Homo sapiens: one gene and its partners. The protein of the gene in region 3 purifies or fractionates together with the protein of the main gene of each other region. This does not show direct contact. Each region holds a gene or a part of one and is shown on either strand. Other genes may lie near its edges.

Region 1 (3,650 bases), on a different chromosome or scaffold from region 3:
CTTCTTGCTTTTAAAGACTATTTTGGTTGTTCTTTGCTCCTCGAATTTTCATATGAAATTTTAGGATCAGCTTGTCAGTTCCTGCAAGGAGCCACCTAAGATTTTGATAGGGATTGTGCTGAATCTCTAGATAGATTTTGAGAGTATTCCCATCTTAATGTTAGTTAAGTCTTCTGATCTCTGAACATGGGGTGTCCCTCTATAGATACAGATCCTTTTTAATTTCTCTCAGTGATGTTTTGTAGTTTTCAGAGTCTAAATTTGGCACTTTTTTGTTAAATTTATTTCTAAGTATTAATGTCTTAACTTCTATTGTAAATAGAATTGTTTTATTTTATAATATTTTTGGGTTTCTTATTGCAAGTGAATACAGTTGATTTTTGTATATTTTTGATTTTGAATCTACATCCTTGCTGAACTTACTAATTCTCATAGTTCTTAGTGGATTCCTTGGGATTTTCTAAATACAGGATATAGCAAGATAGCCCATATATAGAAGGGTATAGCAGGATATCCCATATATTTACGAATCCCAAAGAATCCACTAAAAACTACAAGAATTAGTAGGATATTTCACCTGAAAATGGAAATAGTTTTACTTCATTTTTCCTATTTGGATACCTCTATTTCTTTTTCTTACCTAATTGCCTTGGCTAGAATGTCTAACAATGTTGAGTAGAAATGGCAAGAGTGGATGTCCCAATTTTGTTCCTGATCTTGGGGGAAAGCATTCAGTCATTCACCATTAAATATGATGTTAGCTGTGCGTTTTTCATGGGTGCTCTATCAGATTCAGTAAGTTTTTTTCCATACCTAGTTTGTTGAACTTTTTTGTTGTTGTGGTTAGTGTTTTTGTCACGAAATGGTATTGGATATTGTCAGATGCTTTTCCATTTTGATGATGATTTGGTTTTTGTCTTTTGTTCTGTTGGTATGCTGTATCACACAAATTGATTTTTGTATGTTAAACCAACCTTGTGTTCATGAAATAAATCCCACTTCTTTGGTGTGTATACTCTTTTTTTATATGTTTCTGGATTTGGTTTGCTAGCATTTTCTTGAGGATTTTTATGTCTAATTGATATTGGTCTGTAGTTTTCTTACAATGTTTGTCTGGTTTTGATATTGGTAATACTGGCCTCATCGAATGAGTTAGGAAGTGTTCTCTCCTCTTCTGTTTTTGGAAGAGTTTGTCAAGAATTTGTATTAATTCCTCTTTAAGAATTTGGTTGAATTCACCAGTGAAGCCATCTGGGCCTGGGCTTTTCTTTGTGAGTTGTTGTTGTTGGGTTTTTTTAAATGCTTACTTTTTAAAATGGTCCTACCTCCTTGTGGTCTGTGTGTCCCAGAGTAACTGTTCTTAGCAGGAGGATTTCATTACCCAATTGAGTTTACTACTAAGATGTTTTTGAGCAACTCTTAACTACCTTTTTGGTTTGTCTGTTTGTTTGACTGATAAAGACAAGGTCTTGCTATTTTGTTGGCAGGCTGGTCTGGAACTCTTGGCATCAGGCCATCCTCTGACCTTGGCCTCCCAAAGTGCTGGGAGATTAAAGGCATGAGCCACCACGCCCAGCCCCACTTCACTACCTTTTTGGATGTACATGGGGCATATGTAGCTTATTGAAAAAAGCAGAATCATTCAACAATTTTGTAATTTTATCTGAAGGTATAAGTATTTTCACAGTGTAAGTATTAAACATGAATTTTGTTGTTTGGAGTAGTTTGTTCATTGCTTGGATGTTTACCCAGAATATTAGTTTGGGATGTTAATATTATTTTCATGAGGACTTAATTTATATAGAGTAGCTATGGTCTATAATTTAATTCAATTACATAGTTAAAAGTCTAGGCTCACTATAATTTTCACATAGACAAATTAGGCACCGTTGTATTCAGATTAAGCTATTAGTTATTTTATATATTTTAGAAACTAGTTTTTTCATACTAGTTATCCAATTACTAAAATAATGATCGTGAAGACCATTTATGAATTGCATTTGAGCAAAACATTTAAGATTTAAAACAACCCTTTCATATATTAAAATATCTTTTAAAGTATTTACAACAGATACAAACTGGTGATTCCATCTAGAATACGTTTTTAATAGTTAGAGAAATCTAAAAGGATCCTGTAGCTTAGTGAATACATTCACATTCAATCAGGTAGAAACCAATTTTAAACAATGTATTTAGTTCTGGTTCTCAAAATATAGAATTATTTTCCAGAGAAGAGATACTTAACATCACTATGTAAAGATAAGTGGTGGCAGCTATTCTGTACTTTTAAAACTCTGTGTGTGTATATATGGTAAAAGCAACTTGATGTCATCTTGTGTGATTGTGTTAACAGAATATTATAAAAATCTACCTTTAGATTTAGCCAATTAAGTAATCAAATCATGAATTAATAGGAAAAACATCCAATTGCTTCTTTAAAATATATAGACTCTTCTAAAATGAGGTTGAATTTATTGTGTGGAATATAAATGCAGAACATACAGAAAGCTTTATTAGATTGATTTTTTTCTGTCTTTTTATTAAAAATTCATTGTAGTTGAAATGATCTTGTAGAAAAATACAGGACCTGGGATTTAGAGATTCCTTGTGATGTCACTAACTAGTGTCGTTGAGCAAGTCAGGGCTCTCTGTCACTTGATTTTCTTATCTCTAAAATAATAATACCGACTTGTCTACCTCAGAATATATCTAAAAGGCATGAGATTAATGCAGTGTGTTATTATTCCTGTTACTATTAACAGTAATAAATACCATCTGCCATAACTGGAATCATTCTCCAGTTCTCTGCTTTGTCACACAAGTCTTCCATGCCACCTGAGAATGAGTGCTGGGGAGAATCATCTGAAACACTGTTGGGTACATTGATTTATCACTGATTGACTATACGGGAGGTTGCTTTTGTCTCCTGTAGGTTGATATTGTCTCACCTAGCTTGGTATCTAAAAAGCCCATATGGAAGTGAGTGTTAACCGTTTTCCTTGACACCAGTGACATAATTCTGCTGTGCTAGACTTTGCTGCAAGTGATTGATCGGCTTCGCTGACTCTTGTGGCATTTTATTAAATATAGCGGACCCCTTTTGGTATCGCATTTTATTAAATATAGCGGGCCCCTTTTGGTATCGCATTTTATTAAATATAGCGGGCCCCTTTTGGTATCGCATTTTATTAAATATAGCGGGCCCCTTTTGGTATCGCATTTTATTAAATATAGCGGGCCCCTTTTGGTATCGCATTTTATTAAATATAGCGGGCCCCTTTTGGTATCGCATTTTATTAAATATAGCGGGCCCCTTTTGGTATCGCATTTTATTAAATATAGCGGGCCCCTTTTGGTATCGCATTTTATTAAATATAGCGGGCCCCTTTTGGTATCGCATTTTATTAAATATAGCGGGCCCCTTTTGGTATCGCATTTTATTAAATATAGCGGGCCCCTTTTGGTATCGCATTTTATTAAATATAGCGGGCCCCTTTTGGTATCGCATTTTATTAAATATAGCGGGCCCCTTTTGGTATCGCATTTTATTAAATATAGCGGGCCCCTTTTGGTATCGCATTTTATTAAATATAGCGGGCCCCTTTTGGTATCGCATTTTATTAAATATAGCGGGCCCCTTTTGGTATCGC
Region 2 (4,052 bases), on a different chromosome or scaffold from region 3:
CAGAGCCTAGAACAGAGCCAGGCACATAGCATGTGCTCAACACATCTCTGTTAAATTCATGAGTAATGTTGCCTGTTCGCAGATTAAATGCTGCTACCAAGTGTATTCATCAGAGTTTTTAACAATCTTGCCTGACCATGAAGTTTACTTCCAAGTTCTTCTAGGCTGGTGCTGAGCAGGACTTCAGGCAGCTGGGCCACGGCCCTCGAAATAAAGAAGTGAACCAACACTCAGCAAGAAGAACAGGGACTGTTTGCACTGTCCATTTGTGGCTCATTTATAATACTTTCTTTGCTTCCTCAAAGGTGAACAGACATGGGAACAGGTACATGTGGTTTGATAGGAAATGAAAGATTTCCAACAGTTTTAAATGGATGGACTTCAGGGCAAAGGCTGGCTTCTTTTCATAAAGGAGGTAGTTAATAGCTTACATTGTATGAGACTGCCCATATGCCCTTAAAAAAATCATTCTTCATTATAACTCTGAAAAAACAGCTTAACTAGTCTTTGAACAGGCCACCTTCATCAGTAAAACATGCTTCTATATCATTCTCTTCCTCGAACAAAACACTGTGAATAGCTATTGCTGAGCAGACGCCGCCCAGTATCTCTTATGTGACATTAAAAAAATCCACTCAAATACCAACAGATTCAACTTTATAGCACCATTCCAAAATACTAAACTTTCTTTGCACCTTTATTTTTTATCTTTTTTTTTTTTTTGGTACACATGTAAAGTCTGGGCATCCTGTAAATTTCTGAAAAGCCTCATAGAAAAAAAAAAACCGACTAATTTTTAGGACAAAGCAATAACTCAGTTTATAGGCAAGATGATCTCAAGCAGGCTGTAAATTCTTCGTGGGCTTCTGTAAATCTTGATTCGGGGGTGAGAATATGGAAAGGAGGCTAAAGTCTTCCTGGATTAGTCTCTAGAGACTGTGTTGCGCATCAGGATAGAAAAACTTGTTGCCCAACGGTCAGACTCTGCGTATCGGTTACAATGCAAACCATAACAACAGTCTTTTGTTAATTATTTTACTCTTCTGATTGACAAAGGAATTGGAATACTGGATATGTTCGGAGTTTGTATACACCTTTTATTTGTACTCTGTAAGAGAGAAATTAGAATAATATTGAATTCCCTCTTACAAATCTCCATATTTGAAGCTTGGAGCACTGAAATCTGTTCTTAGCAAGCAGATGTATTTAAAGCAGAATTATAAATGGGTCTTTAATTCAACATATATTTGGTTGCATTGTTATGTAAGAAGACTGTTTGACTCAGTAATGTGGGAGTTGACAGATGAGAGACTGTTTGCAGAAAAGATGATTTTTTTCCTCGTGACACTGGAGAGTCACGTCTCACAATGACTGTAACTGCATGTTCTTGTCTAACTCTTCCATATATTACTGTGAGTAATGTGAACCGACACAATGTATGCGAGGGGCTGGGGATTCTGAGTATACTGTGATTGGGAGAGGGAAGAGAAGAGGTAGAGGTCCACTAACAGCATAATTATGCAGCAGTTTCAAAGAAATCGATTATTACACAGTAACAGTCAATGACCCAGGAAGAGAAAGTTTAAATTAGAAGTGACTAGTATTAAAAAGCTACTGTGCACCAGGTAGGAAGGAATATGAGAACCATAATATGCCCTGAAATAGAAATCATCACTTTGCACTATGTACACCACATACAATATAACAGATTCTTTTTTAACATTGCACAGTATAAATATTATACACGGTGGAGTAAACTAAATGCAAAATAACTCTGAGGCACACAGAAGAAACAAGGAATAGATTGAACTTTGATTAAACTAAGATGGAGTTAGTAAAAGGCAGAATGTTACATTTTCAGGCCAGTTAAGCTTCTGAGATCTCACCTCAAGTGGGTCAGCAGCCACCTCCCATAAATACTGAAAATGATCATACCTCAATGTCGTTAGAGTTAATTGCTTCAAAGAAAGACTAATTAGCTAAGTAATTTGAGAAAATCAAACTGTTGCTCCCCACTCTAAAGTAGGTAACCCCTAAAGGTCTCTTCCAAATGTAGGGTTTTATAATGTGAATACACTGCTGCATTCCCCTATTTCTTGTAAATAACTTGATTACTAGGAAACCACTTTAAGGAAACTAGAACAGTATTCAAGAACACCCATCACAGTGCTTAACAAGATTTAATGTACATTTATTCTTAACATGTGGAACATATAAAGATTTTATACTGAATAAATGATATTCATTAAGCCAGAGGAAAAGGAGGAATTTACATCAAGTTTTTTTCTTTTTTTTTTTTTTAAACTACATTATCTTGAAATACAAATGTGGATTCTCATCACTGAAAAATCTTTGAAGTTGTGTTTCTTCCTTTTAGTTGTATTTTTTTCATTTTCTCTTTTTTGACTGTACTGGTAACCATTTTCTAAATCAATCCATATATAACCATTTCCACACCTTGATTCATGAAGCAAATTGTGATCAGCTGCTCTCCTGAAATCGAGCATGACTTTATACATACAGAAACTTGTACATTACCCTCTTTTTTTTTTGTTTTTGTTTTTTGTATTTTTTCTTTCTTTTTTTGGAGATATGGCCCTAATGAAAAAATATATAAAATAAAAATAAAAAATTATTTAAATCTACCATCACTTCGTAGTTACCACATCATGAAAAAGAAACTAAAACTTTGTACTAAAAAAAAAAAAAAAAAAGAAAAGAAAAAAATGAGGGTATGTTTAATGTACAACTTCTATATACATCACAGCCCATAGGCAGTAAAAAAAATATTTAAAAAATGATGAAAGGAATTGTGAAGAACTGTCACGTGGAAGGTCAAACGCCGACAGCAGGCATGACGGGAGTGGTGAGGAGCAGTTTCCGGATCGTTGTCAGGTATGTATTCTCAATCTTAAAAAACATTGTTTTTGCTCCCAGCCTAATGGAACCATATTCCTGTGGAGAAACCAGTATCATTTCATAGTTTTGACTACTGACCGACATACCTCCTTGAGCCCCTATACCTGTATCTGTAGAAATTTCTATTGCACAGAACTTTGGGTGATGGGATGCAGTTTTTTTCATTCTCTGAGGAGTAAAACGCATAGGAAATGGATAATTTTTCACCTTTTTGACTCAGTGTGGTGAAATTTTCGCATCTTAGCATCTTTTGCCACAACTTTTTTCTTTAAAGTCAATTTGCTTCCCCCAAAAATGCAATACAACATGGGAAAGAACATTAAAAAGATCTGTGAAGAACAAAAAGTGACCTTTGAATGCACTAGACAGCAACTTTGGTTAAAAAAAAGAGAAAAAAAAAACCCCAAAGGATGTACTTATACACACAGACAGCAAATATTAATTTCATAACTGTTCAAATTAATTATTTCTTTAATTCCCAATTGGTAAATAGTGAATGGGGCAGAGGAGCAAAGATTTTCTTTTCCTTCTTCCTACGCTGGATAAACAAGAACAGAAAACAGCCAGTTATATGTGACCCTCTAATCTTCACTCACACATGCTTGCCTTCTCACTTATGTCATAACTGCCCAATCTGAAACAGTACATCACAGATGACAGATGCAACCAGAGAGTTCAGGACAGCTGATATCGAGATATCCAGCAACCGGCCCTCGTGCAAAAGGAATTCCGAGCGGTTTTCGTCCACTCTGGCCATGGCTAGCAAAGCCTTGGCCGCCCTGCACATCATGTCTACGCTAGGTGGTTCCAGGGGCGGGGGCTGCATGTGCATGAGGTTGTGCTGGCTCTGCTGGTACTGGGCCATCGTGACCCCATCCTCTAGGAAGCTTATCAAGTTTCCAATGCTTCCTTTCTGCACAGCTATGGCCCTTGCTGCTAGTGCGTCCCCTTGGGCAAGGTTCGATAAAAGCGCCATGGACATTTCTCGACAGACTGGGTTTTTGCGATCCCCAACGTACCTAACTAATGTAGCATAGAATTTCTCCTGACGACTAAATGGAGGAGTGGCCAAGATCAGGTCCACATTATTGTCCTGGATACTGAGTTTACAGAGGGTCTCCAGCACAAGTCTC
Region 3 (4,229 bases):
GTTCCCCACCCACTCACCTGCATGTGTGCCTGATGGAGCCTCTCGCACCTCAGTCCAGGGCTCTGCCCCTTGCTCCAACTGAGTAATTAGTTTTGGTTTGGAAGAGAGAAGCCCTGTTCATAAAGAAAAAGGATCTTAGAGGAAGAAAAAAAAAATGAATGAAAAGGAATGTGATGGCGGTTACAAGCACAAGCAGTCACTCCAGACCTCAGTGTCAACTTGAGCATCTGCAATGAGCATGGACAGGTCAGAGAGGCCTAGAGGGTGGCACCCAGGATGTCCAACTCATGAAGTAAAGCAAAGGGAGGGGGCAAAGTCAACTAGAAAACCAGGTCCTCCTGGAGGACGAGAAACTCCTATTTTGGGAGGCAGATGAATCATGACACAGAAACATTCCAGAACTGGGCTAGTTGGCACCACAAAGCTACCCATCTTAACTCTGTATGGCTCTGACCTTTCTTGAGGGGTGTAAGGGGCATAAACTCCAGCCTCTAAGCCCATACTTAAGAAAAACAAAACAAAAAGCACATCATTTAAGATTTTTTCAATACCCCAAACCATTCACCCTGTGAAAACACAAAGTTGCCCAGCAGACCAATCCTGAGTCAAGGAGAAAGCCATCCTCACCCACAGACACCAGATTCCCATAGTTCTCCAGCATCACATCCCTGTACAGGGCCCGCTGAGCAGCATCCAGGTGTCTCCACTCAATCCGGGTAAAGGCCACAGCCACATCCCCAAATGTCAGCGGTCCCTGCAAAACCAAACCCAATTCTGCTCATCCGGGAACCCCTGAGGGAGGCATCCCAAGAGAAGGAAGCAAGGTGGTCAAAGCCAGCTTCTGACAGTTCCAACAGTGCTCATGGAAACCAACAAGTAAAAGCTGAGGGCTCAGGGGATGTGCGACTCCTCCCTTGAGCAGGTTCTTCCTGCATGCCTGTCCTGCTCCCTCCTCCAGGCCTAGCCTCTGCTCACTCCACCCTTCATGTCACCTCATCAAAAAGGTCTTCTATTTCTCCACCCCATCCTCTGCCACTCAGTCTCGAAACCCATTTCACTTTTCTTCACAGGATTTCTCACCACCTGGCAGGAGAGGTTTGCACTGACTGTCAGCATCCTCTCTAATGTGAGCTCCAGGGGGACAGTGTGGGTCACTGCTGCCTCCCAGTCAAAAACACTGCCTGACACAGAAGTGTTCAAGCTTTATTCAATCAACAAATGAATAGAAACTTTGAAAAGACATGGAAAGTGATTAGCTTTATCCGAGAATTTACAGGGAGTATGATCTGACTCTGGGGCAGAATATTTTTAAAAAAGAAAAAAAAATTGCTTTTCATAAGAGTAACAACTTACTATGTACCAGCCACGGTGCTAAACCCTGAGATACATATCATCTCTCTAAATTTCTGCCGTAACTATATAAAGTAAAATCTATTTCGTAGCTAAAGACACAAAGGTTCAGAGAGTTGGAAGAACTTGCTCAAGGTCCCAGGGCTGGTTGAAGGCACAGTATAAAAGGAAGCCACAAAAAGTGGTAATGAAACTAGAACAAATTGGAATGGCTATGAAATACTAAAAGAAAAAATGAGTAAGCCTTAAAAAAATGAAAAGTGTGTTTCAAATGAAATTACTTGACTTAGAGCAGTAGAAATGTAGGTGATCTTTAATTTTTTTAATTTTATTTGTATAATAGACACTCAAATGTTTATCACTTCCTTTCAAAATACCAATTATTTAATCAGCTTCTCAAAATCCTTCAAAACCTAGTTTTCTCCAGGATAAAAGCAAACTCCAGTCTGGGATTCTAGACCATGAATGTTTCCAACTTTCTCAGACCAGTTTGTTCATGGTCCCGCCATAATGACTTCATTCAGGCAGCGCTTTCCCCTAGTATCCTCTGCAATTATGCAAATCTCATTTATTCTTCAGGAAGAACTAAGGCGCCCACTACTCCACCCCTCCCACCCTACCACACACTAAAGGTCAAGAGAGCACTGCTATCACCCTATGTCTTTATGGCCTACGTCTTTACATGCTAACGTGTATTTTTTTCATCGTCTGCCAGTTTGCAAAGCACTTTTCTGTTTCTAGCACTCTAGAAAACATGGGTAGCAATAATCTACTTGGTGAATGACTACGTAATGGGTAGACAGGACGGAAATCGCGGGACCCATCCAGGATTGGTTCGGGTAGCTTTGTCCACACACAGGGCAGGGCATTGTCCGGGCAAGAGGCATAAACCCCACCTCGCTGAAACACGTGGTTTCTCAAGAAATGGAAAAATCAAACTTGCCTGGATCTGGGCTCTTGGGGCCATCTGTCTCCTGAACTGTTCTCCCAGGCAAGGGCTGAGAATCCTGCGTAAGTCAATCTGGGAAAGAAGAGAGGAAATTGAGGAAGTCCCTCCGTGCCCTAGCCTAGCTAGAATCTGCCCTCTAGACCAGGTCCCCGCCCGCCCGTTCCCTCCACAGGTGGGCAGACAGGTCCAGGTGGGTACGCTCGGGAAGAAAGGAAAGGGAACGGCTGCTGGGATCCGGCCTGGACTGCAGCCAGCTCCACGCCAAACACTTTTGGCAGCACCGGGGGACGGCCTTGTCAGTGGCCCAATCTGTCGGCCGGGGCGCAAGGCTGGAGCGCTCTGTGATGCACCAGCCTCGAGCGGTCGCTCCACACGGCGCAGCCACTGCGGGTGGGCACTGCCCACCGCCGCCTTCCCCTCCCACCCCGGCTCGCCCCTCGACCCGCCCCTGGGAAAGGCGGGGAGCACCCGCCAGGGGCTCGAGGCTTCAGGGACCCAGCCTGACCCCGGCCGCTCACGAACCGAACCGAGCCGGCAGGGCTGCGGAGCTGCACGCCCAGAGAGTCAGCGACCACACCACGCCGTTCGGACAGTAACCACCAGCCAGGGGCTGGTGCAGCGCTCGCACCACGCGGAGACAGGCTGGACCGGAAGCGGAAGTGGCTGAGGCCGCGGAGGCCTCTGGGAAACGTAGTCTGGGCCGCTTGGGGTCTTAGGGGCTCCATCCGCAGAGCAGGTTGGCATCACCTGGGAATCTTTGAAAAGTGAAGGTGCGGGAAGTGGAGAGCGGCTGATCGCAGTCGGGAGGTGATACATTATGACTGACATGCAAAATCTGGTAAAAAATTGGACAGGGCAGTGGGCCGCCTGGAGGCAGTATCCCATACCTCTGACATGCACCGTGGATATGGAGATAGTCCTTCAAAAGCAGGAGCAGCTCCATATGCGCAGGCATTTGACTCGCTGCTTGCCTGCCCTGTGGCAGAGTACTTGAAGATCAGTAAAGAGATTGGGGAAGACGTGCAGAAAGATGTGGAGATGGTACACACAGTTTTGAAGTTGGAGTGAGCTCTCTTGGTTACAGCTTCTCAGTGTCAATAGCCGGCAGGTAATAAGCTTTCCGATCTGTTGGCACCTATCTCAGAGCAGATCAAAGAAGTGATAACCTTTTGGGAGAAGAACCGAGGCAGCAAGTTGTTTAATCAGCTGTCAGCTGTCAGTGAAAGTATCCAGGCCCTAGGCTGGGTGGCTATGGCTCCCAATCCTGGCCCTTATGTGAAAGAAATGAATCATGCTGCTGTGTTTTATACAAACTGAGTCCTTAAAGAGTACAAAGATGTGGATAAGAAGCATGTAGACTGAGTCAAAGCTTATTTAAGTATATGCACAGAGCTGCAGGCTTACATTAAGGAGTTCCATACCACCGGACTGCCTGGAGCAAAACGGGGCCTGTGACAAAAGAACTGAGTGGACTGCCATCTGGACCCTCTGCTGGATCAGCTACTCCTCCCCCACCACCAGGCCCCCCTCCTCCACTAGTCTCTGTCAGTTCAGGCTCAGATGAGTCCGCTTCCCTCTCAGCACTGTTTGCGCAGATTAATCAGGGGGAGAGCATCACACATGCCCTGAAACGTGTATCTGATGACATGAAGACTCACAAGAACCCTACCCTGAAGGCTCAGAGTGGTCCAGTACGCAGTGGCCCCAAGCCATTCTCTGCACCTAAACCCCAAACCAGCCACAAAGAAGGAGCCAGCTGTACTTGAACTGGAGGGCAAGAAGTGGAGAGTGGAAAATCAGGAAAATGTTTCCAATCTGGTGATTGATGACACAGAGCTGAAACAGGCGGCTTACATATACAAGTGTGTCAACACGATGTTGCAAATCAAGGGCAAAATTAACTCCATTACAGTAGATAATTGTAAGAAAC

The links.
Region 1: the proteins of ZNF485 (region 3) and MRPS9 purify together in Homo sapiens (affinity purification with mass spectrometry; one large-scale study listed by BioGRID and IntAct). This does not show direct contact.
Region 2: the proteins of ZNF485 (region 3) and ARID1B purify together in Homo sapiens (affinity purification with mass spectrometry; one large-scale study listed by BioGRID and IntAct). This does not show direct contact.

The regions. Positions count from the first base shown.
Region 1 is NC_000002.12:105,051,486-105,055,135, forward strand, and holds part of MRPS9 (small ribosomal subunit protein uS9m), read left to right. Parts: intron 1-3,650.
Region 2 is NC_000006.12:157,207,378-157,211,429, reverse strand, and holds the end of ARID1B (AT-rich interactive domain-containing protein 1B), read right to left. Parts: coding exon 3,539-4,052; 3' UTR 651-3,538; downstream 1-650. UniProt on the Homo sapiens protein: Involved in transcriptional activation and repression of select genes by chromatin remodeling (alteration of DNA-nucleosome topology).
Region 3 is NC_000010.11:43,605,139-43,609,367, reverse strand, and holds the start of ZNF485 (zinc finger protein 485), read right to left. Parts: upstream 2,931-4,229; 5' UTR 2,822-2,930; exon of another isoform or gene 2,805-2,821; intron 2,372-2,804; 5' UTR 2,318-2,371; coding exon 2,294-2,317; intron 755-2,293; coding exon 628-754; intron 135-627; exon of another isoform or gene 114-134; coding exon 18-113; intron 1-17. UniProt on the Homo sapiens protein: May be involved in transcriptional regulation.